Homo sapiens: one gene and its partner. The protein of the gene in region 1 purifies or fractionates together with the protein of each later gene. This does not show direct contact. Each region holds a gene or a part of one and is shown on either strand. Other genes may lie near its edges. The genes, in order: PIF1 and HSF2.

Region 1 (4,317 bases):
GGGAGGCCACGGTGGGTGGATCGTTTGACCTCCGGAGTTCGAGACAAGCCTGGGAAACATGGTGACATCCCGTCTATACGAAAAAAAAATTATATATATATATGTGTGTGTATATATATATATGTGTGTGTATATATATATGTGTGTGTATATATATGTGTGTGTATATATGTGTGTGTGTGTGTATATATATATATATATATATATATATATATATATATATATAAATTAGCTGGGTGTGCATCTGTAGTTCCAGCTACCTGGGGGGCTGAGGCGGGAGGATCACCAGAGCCCAGGAGGCGGAGGTTGCAGTGAGCCACGATCGCGCCACGGCAGAGGTTGCAGTGAGCAGAGATTGTGCCACTGCACTCCACTACAGCCTGGGCGACAGAGTGAGCCCTAAGAAGGAAAAAGGAAAGGAAAGGGCAATTTAATCCATGGTAGTTATCATTATCTGTAAAATGAGGTAGCCAGACTCACCTGTAAGATCCTTTCCAGCTATGTAATTCCAAGCTTCAATGAGATAATAAAGATGATTAAAAGTAAATTCTTTCAGCATCCTGTGCAAGAAGAGGGATACAATTTCCCTGAAGACAGAGACTCTACTCGCTTCCGCTGTACCCTCTGGCACGTGGCACAGGTCTCAGAGTTTCTCACTCATGGGCCTCAGGTGGGTGAGAGAGCCAAAGCGTAAAGTCCCTTACAAAGGCAGAGAAGGATGTAGAGTTGGGGGCGGGGGAGGGATTGGGCAGGCCTTGGGGTGGTCTGCCCAGAACTGGACAATGGTACTGTGAGTGTAAACAGGGGTGTGAGAGTCCAAAGGCAGATCTTCCCCAAGGCTAAGCCCAGCCTCTGTGTGCGGGCTAGAGGGGAGAGGGAGTGTGCTGGAAGGATGGTTCTGAAAATAAATCTTCGGAGTCGCGTAGGGTTTTCAGACCCGACACCACGCGCCGCCGGGTGGCTGCCGCAGCGGCGGCCTCCTCCCACCACGCCCAGCCGTCCACTGGATTTGGTATGCTCAGCCACCACCATAAACCTCCTTCCTCTAGCAGGCAATTGGTACAGCCCAAGCTCCTGGAGTAGAGACGCAAAGAAAGACACGCCCATTGTTACGCCCCTACCTCTGAGTGGCTGGAGAATTTAAAGATCCAGTCGGTGATTGGGTGATTTTCTGCCTCTAGCATTTGAAAAATTTCTAGTTTCGGAGCTTAGCCACAGGCCGGCTACGATCTGCTTGTTCATCTGAGTGTCGGCACAAGTGAGTGTCTGCCCGAACCCAGAGGTGGGGAGCAAAGAGCCTGATTTATCTAGGGGTTTCCGGCGGGAGGGTGCAAACAAATGGGTCAGCCTGAGGGAGCACGGCTTCTAGGGTCCCAGGGTCCCCCGCGATTTCCCTAGCCGAATATTTTCCACCTCGTCCCCACCTTGGTGGTGGGAAGCGCGAGGGCATGGGAATCACACTGACTTTGACTACTAGCCGCTGTGGCTTATGAAGGGCAAGTGAGTTTCCCTCTCTTAGCCTGTTTCCACGTCTGTACACGGGGAAGAGTGAGACCTGCCCGCTGCATATAAGCCAGTGAATGTACCTACAAGGCAGAAGTCGCTTATTACACGGCAGCCCTCTTTGCATCTCCCCACGGGCGATTCTCCTGCTTCCTGGGGAGAGTACTCTGAGGATTCATGTGCTCGCCCTGGGTCTCGGGGAAGGAGGATTCTTTCTGCGCAGGGACCCCTGTTCTAGTGAGGTCCTTGCAGGACACCTGAGGCTCCCTAATCCTCGGTGCCCATCCGCCGCTCTGGAAATTGTTGTGTAGCACGGTGTGTGTGTATATGTGTGTGTGTGTGTGTGTGTATATATATAGAAATTGTATATATATTGTGTGTATATATATATAGAAATTGGATATATAGAAATGGAAATTGTGTAGCAGGGTGCGTGTGTGTATATATATATATACATATATATACACACACACACACACATATATATAATGTATGCATATGTATGTATTTATATGTATGTATTTTTTTTTTAATTAGAGGGTGTCGCTATGTTGCCCAGGATGGTCTCGAGTTCCTGGGCTCAAGCGATCTTCCTTCTTCAGCCTCCCAAAGTGCTGGAATTACAAGCGCCCGCCACCACGCCCGGCTAATTTTTGTATTTTTAGTAGAGACGAGGTTTCACCATGTTGGCCAGGCTGGTCTCAGAACTCCTAACTTCAGGTGATCCGCCCACTTTAGCCTCCCAAAGTGCTGGGATTAAAGCGCGAGCCACTGCGCCCGGCCCAGGGCATATTCTAAGGGTGGATTTTCGGTTAGCCCAAAGCCCTTTCTCCGTCTTTGTGACCTCTTTGTGTTACCAGTGACAGTCCTCGTGATCTTGTGTAGCCTTGACCCTGCTCCCTGTCACGTCCTTTATAGCACCCATTACGTCCCCTATAGCACCCATTACGTCTCATGAATCCTCATGACCCCTGTGCTCCGGTGTCTTCGCAGACCAGCAGAGGCGGTGACGATGCTCTCGGGCATAGAGGCGGCGGCAGGGGAATATGAGGACTCGGAGCTGCGGTGCCGCGTGGCTGTGGAGGAGCTGAGCCCGGGCGGGCAGCCGCGAAGGCGCCAGGCCCTGCGCACCGCGGAGCTGAGCCTGGGTCGCAACGAGCGCCGCGAGTTGATGCTGCGGCTGCAAGCGCCAGGGCCCGCGGGGCGGCCGCGCTGCTTTCCTCTGCGCGCCGCGCGCCTCTTCACGCGTTTCGCCGAGGCCGGGCGCAGCACCCTGCGGCTCCCCGCCCACGACACCCCCGGGGCCGGCGCAGTGCAGCTGCTGCTCTCGGACTGCCCCCCAGACCGCCTGCGCCGCTTCCTGCGCACATTGCGCCTCAAGCTGGCTGCGGCCCCGGGTCCCGGGCCGGCCTCCGCCCGAGCGCAGCTGCTGGGCCCGCGGCCCCGCGACTTCGTCACCATCAGCCCTGTGCAGCCCGAGGAGCGGCGGCTCAGGGCGGCCACCCGGGTTCCGGACACTACGCTGGTGAAGCGGCCTGTGGAGCCCCAGGCTGGGGCCGAGCCTAGCACAGTGAGGACGGGAAAGAAGGGACACCTTTAGGAGTAGATGTGCCATTCTTTAAGATGGCAGAGACCTAGAGACCCAAGTTTGAGGGGAAGCCGGTGTGGGTATTTGATACCCATCTGACATCTCAGTATGACAGGGGTGTGGGAATTGTGCCTGTGGTTGTTATAGTGTAATCCCTGAGATGGAGTAAATCAAAACAGGAAATGGGACCTGGCTACATTAAAAGAGAAAGCAGAGGCCGGGCATGGTGGCTCACGCCTGTAATCCCAGCACTTTGGGAGGCTAAAGTGGATCACCTGAGGTTAGGAGTTCTGAGGCCAGCCTGGCCAACATGGTGAAACCTCGTATCTACTAAAAATACAAAAATTAGCCAGGCGCGGTGGCGGGCGCCTGTAATCCCAGCTACTTGGGAGGCTGAGGCAGGAGAATAGCTTGAACCCGGGAGGCAGAGGTTGCAGTGAGCCTAGATCGCGCCACTGCACTCCAGCCTGGGTGACAGAGCGAGACTCTTCCTCAAAAAAAAAAAAGAGAGAGCGAGAGAGAAAGAAGAGAAGGAGGCTTGCAAAGGACTACAGAAAGAATGCTGGGAGAGGGTAATAGGCCCAGAGTAGAGGAGCTTATGGAGAGAATGAAGTGGTCATTCGTGTCCTGGGCAGCCAACAGTTGAAGCAGATGAGGGGAAAAAAGTCTGGTGGGTTTGACAATTTTCATGGGCTGGGGCAGGTGAATCATAGCCCACCAGGGTTTGACACTAAGCTGGCGAGAGGACAGAGACAGGATAAGAAGGGGCCCTGGCTAGACAGGGTTTTGCTTGGGTATTTTGAGGTGAGAAACAGGTTTGTGATAGGAAGAGAAACTTAGGTGACAGGAAGGAAACTTTAGTGACAGGATGAGAAGGGTTAGGGAACCCAGGGGAAGGAGCTAAGGGAGGGTGTAGACCACACTGGTGTGGTCTGCCCAGGACTGGACAATGGGGGTCTTCAGGGCACAAGGAGAGATCGGGACCCCAATAGTTGCTGGCAAGCTCTCCAGGCAAACCCAAGAGCTCCATGGAATGAAGGCAGTAGAGGACAAAGGGTTACCAGGCCCAGCATTGCACATGGGCCAAGAAGGGTGGGGGCAATGCCTAGCGGGTGGGAGGATGCTCTGAGATAGCTCTGTTCCCCCCAGGAAGCCCCAAGGTGGCCCCTGCCTGTGAAGAGGCTGAGCTTGCCCTCCACCAAGCCACAGCTTTCTGAGGAACAGGC
Region 2 (3,814 bases), on another chromosome or scaffold:
TTATCCATGGAGACTGCTAGCTTCCTACTCTATCTCTACTCTCCTCTACTTTCTTCCTAACAGAAACACAATTTTGATGAAAAACACATTGTGAAATTTAGAAGAGACCCAGACTCATAAATGAAGAATGTAGAGCAAAACAAATAATGATTTTCCCTTATTAGATTAAATTTACAACCCTTGACAATAACCAGTATTGGCAACTAGGTAATTATCAAAATTAAAATGCTTAAAATGCATACGTCTTTTCCTATCTTAAAAGAACTTTCCCTCTTATACCTTCTTTTTCAATCTACCCATCTGTCTTTTCCTTAACTGCAAAATTTAACAAGCAGGTATTTTAAACCCCCCTTCTCCAATTCAGGACCATCCACTTACTCTCACTGAAAACTGCTTTTGGTTCCCTCACTCGACTGAAACCAGATTTCTAAAATGTCAAATATCAAATTCAATGCCCTCTTTTCAGTCCTGATCTTCCTACACCTCTCTGTGGCATTTCATTTGGTACAACTAACAATCTCCTCCTTAAATGTTCGACTCTCTGGGCTTTGATGCTAAACACTGTTGAGTCTCTTATCTCTTATATTTCCTTTCAATTTTCTTCCACCTATCAAATAAGAGGTAGCTGTATTTTCCAGGTTTTTATCCTTAATCGTGGCACCATTCATATTCTTTCCTTAGAATTCATCCACAGTAGGGTATCTTATTATTGACTTTATTTTATAATAAACACATCTACAGCTCTGTCCCTGATCATCTCAAATTACACACTTCAATTTAAAATGTTAACATTTTTTACACTATGTTCTTTAACTCAGTATGTTCTAAACCCATTTCCTGTTTCCCCGGAAGTCAATCTTTTCTTGTGTCTTCCATTCTACCAAGTCCCTTCCTCACTAAGTCACCCGACAACATTTGATGTCAAAAAAAAAAAAAAAATGAAGTTAAAAACTCTCATTCTAACAGCTAGTAAGGGGGAAACATTAAAACATTCCCTTTAAAAATTAAGAACAAAGCCAGAATGCCATGATAATTGCTTCTACTCACTCTTAGTTACTGCCAAAAGAAAAACGGAAGGCATAAAGGTCTGAAAGGAAGAAAATAAATGTCAATCACAGATACTATGGGTGTACTCAGAAAACTGAAATCAGTAAAATGATTTGCTCACTGATTTATTATCAATATACAAAAATTACTTGTATTTCTAATTACCAGCAACAGCTAGAAATCTATTTTTAAGTCAAGAACACCATTTACAACATATATAAGATATCCAGGAAGAAAATGAACAAAGATCCACAAGGCCTAATAGCAAACATAAATCAACAAAATGAATTTAGAAATATGCCTTGTCATGAGAATACACAACACAGAGATATCGATTTTCCCTAATCTGATTTATATAGTTTTGATCCAATTGCAGCAAAAATCCAAAAGGCTTTTTTTTTTTTTATGGAACTTGATTTTAAAACATATGTGGAAGAGCTAAAGACCAAAAATACTTAAGGCACTCCTGAAGGATAGATTACCCTACCAAAAGACTTTTTCTGAAGCTACAGTAATTAAGACAGCAGAAGACAGGCACAGGATAAATTGTCCAATGGAATGGCATAAAGACTCCAGAAACAAAACCACTGAATGTTTGTGTCCCCCAAAATTCTATGTTGAAACCCTTGCCCCTGATATGATGGTATTTGGAGTTAGAGCCTTTGGGAGGTAATTAGGTTCAGAGGAGGTAATGAAGATAGGACCCCCCAGGTTAGGTTGGTGTCCTTATAAGATAAGAGAGACCAGAACACACTCTCTCTCTCTCTCTCTCTCTCTCTGCCATTGGGAAGACACAGAGAGAAGGCAGCTGTCTGCAAAGCAGAGAAAGCTCTAACACAGGAACTGAAATGGCCACTGCCTTCATCTTGGACTTCTCCACCTCCAGAACTGTAAAAAATAAACGCCTGTTGTTGAAGCCACCTGGTCTATGATATCTTGCTACGGCAGCCCAACTGATTAAGACAATATCTACACGTACTTGTGACGTAAGATAGAAGTGGCAATATAGATCATTGGAAAAGGAAGAACTACTCAGTAAAGGTGCTAGACAACTAAAATGTAAAAAGCCACAAACTGGAAGATATGGCCAAAACATAAACTCGAATATGTAGAATATATAGGAATTCTCACAAATAATAAAAAAAAAAACAGAAAAATGGCAAAACAAACATTTCACAGAACAGGAAACACAAATGGCCAACGAACGTGAAAAGGTTTTAGAACTCATTAATAATCAAGAAAATATAAATCAAAACCTCATTGAGACAATGCTTTACATCAATTAGATTGGTAAAAAGTAAGAACGATAACTAATACACAGTTTTGAAGAGGCAGATTAACAGAAAATCTCATACATGGCTAATAGCGGAATAAGCTGGTGTGATCTCTTTGGAAGATAATTCACACTATCTTGAGGTTAGACATTTCATATCCTATATCCCAGCAAGTCACATGAGTGTACAGACCTTAGAGAAACTCTTGCTTATATACACCAGGAGAGATATACAAGAATATTCCTAACAGCATGTGACACAGTTGATCTCTTTCCTGAGCCATTTTCTTTCATTAACTTCTGTGGGTTCACTCCCTTGATTTTCCTTCTTTTTCACTGTTCCGTCTCAGCCTCCTTTGCTGGCTTTTGTCTTCATACTCTCTAAATGTTGGAATAATACATCTTTTGGTTCCTTCTATCTTCACAGAAGATGATTTCATTAAGTCTCCTGGCTTTACCAGTTACAAGGTCTAAACTCCACCCTGAATGCCAAAGTCTTATACTCAACCACCTATTCAACATTTCCACTTGGACATTTTGGAGTGTGGAAGTCAGTCAAGCTGTTCAAAAATACTCCTGTTTTTTTTTCTAGCACTGCACTTCCTCATCCCTTTTGAAATTAGGTGTGGCCATATGACTAGGCATGGTCAAATTTAAGAAAAATTAAACAATTTTCAAGTTGTTTCAAATACTACTAGAGATCCATTTTTAATCTCAAAGTTAATATGCCAAAAAGAATCTCTAACATCTTTCCTCAGCAAATGGATTTATCCTGTAGTTCAAACCAAATTTATGAATCATTTTTAATTGTCGTTCCTCCAACCATAGCCAATTTATCAATTTATCAGCAAATCCTGCAGCTTTGCCTTCAAAGATTTCAAAGCTACATCTCAATACCTTGACTGCTGCTACCTTAGTCTCAGCCATCAATATTTTCAATACCATACAGGAAAACTGTGATAGTCTTCTAACTGGTCCCCTCATTTCCAATCTTCTTACTATAGATCTAGGGCCCTATACCATCTGCTCCTGCCTACCTCCCTACTCTCACTCTCCTAATTCCCTAAAGATATTCTAATCACATGGGCCTTCCTGCTTCCTTGAACAGCCACATTCAAGGCCTTACCTTTTGTCATTCCCCTTTGGCCCATCTTTTCTAATCATTTAGATCTCTCCTCAAACATCGTCTCCTTGGAGAGGCTTTCCTCATCACCTTACCTAAAATATTCACAAATCCTAGTCTGTTTATGGGCCAGTTATCAATTTATTGCTCCAAATTCATTCTTCATTGTCTGCTCTACAAGCATAGAGCTTGGTTCCTTAAATAAATATCTTTCTTTTTCTAGGTGCCATGATGTTAAGTTCTGTCAGCAGGGGATAAAAGAGAGATATTACAAGAAAAAGGAGCTCTTGTTCCTGACTCATGTATCCTTGGCAAGCTTCTGCAGTGGAGGCAGCTTCTCCAGTGCCTAGCTCTTGATATTAATGGTGGTC

The links.
Region 2: the proteins of PIF1 (region 1) and HSF2 purify together in Homo sapiens (affinity purification with a luminescence readout; one large-scale study listed by IntAct). This does not show direct contact.

Annotation. Positions count from the first base shown.
Region 1 is NC_000015.10:64,822,534-64,826,850, reverse strand, and holds the start of PIF1 (ATP-dependent DNA helicase PIF1), read left to right. Parts: upstream 1-1,203; 5' UTR 1,204-1,282; intron 1,283-2,046; exon of another isoform or gene 2,047-2,223; intron 2,224-2,496; 5' UTR 2,497-2,515; coding exon 2,516-3,073; intron 3,074-4,240; coding exon 4,241-4,317. UniProt on the Homo sapiens protein: DNA-dependent ATPase and 5'-3' DNA helicase required for the maintenance of both mitochondrial and nuclear genome stability. Efficiently unwinds G-quadruplex (G4) DNA structures and forked RNA-DNA hybrids.
Region 2 is NC_000006.12:122,405,974-122,409,787, reverse strand, and holds part of HSF2 (heat shock factor protein 2), read right to left. Parts: intron 1-3,814. UniProt on the Homo sapiens protein: DNA-binding protein that specifically binds heat shock promoter elements (HSE) and activates transcription. In higher eukaryotes, HSF is unable to bind to the HSE unless the cells are heat shocked.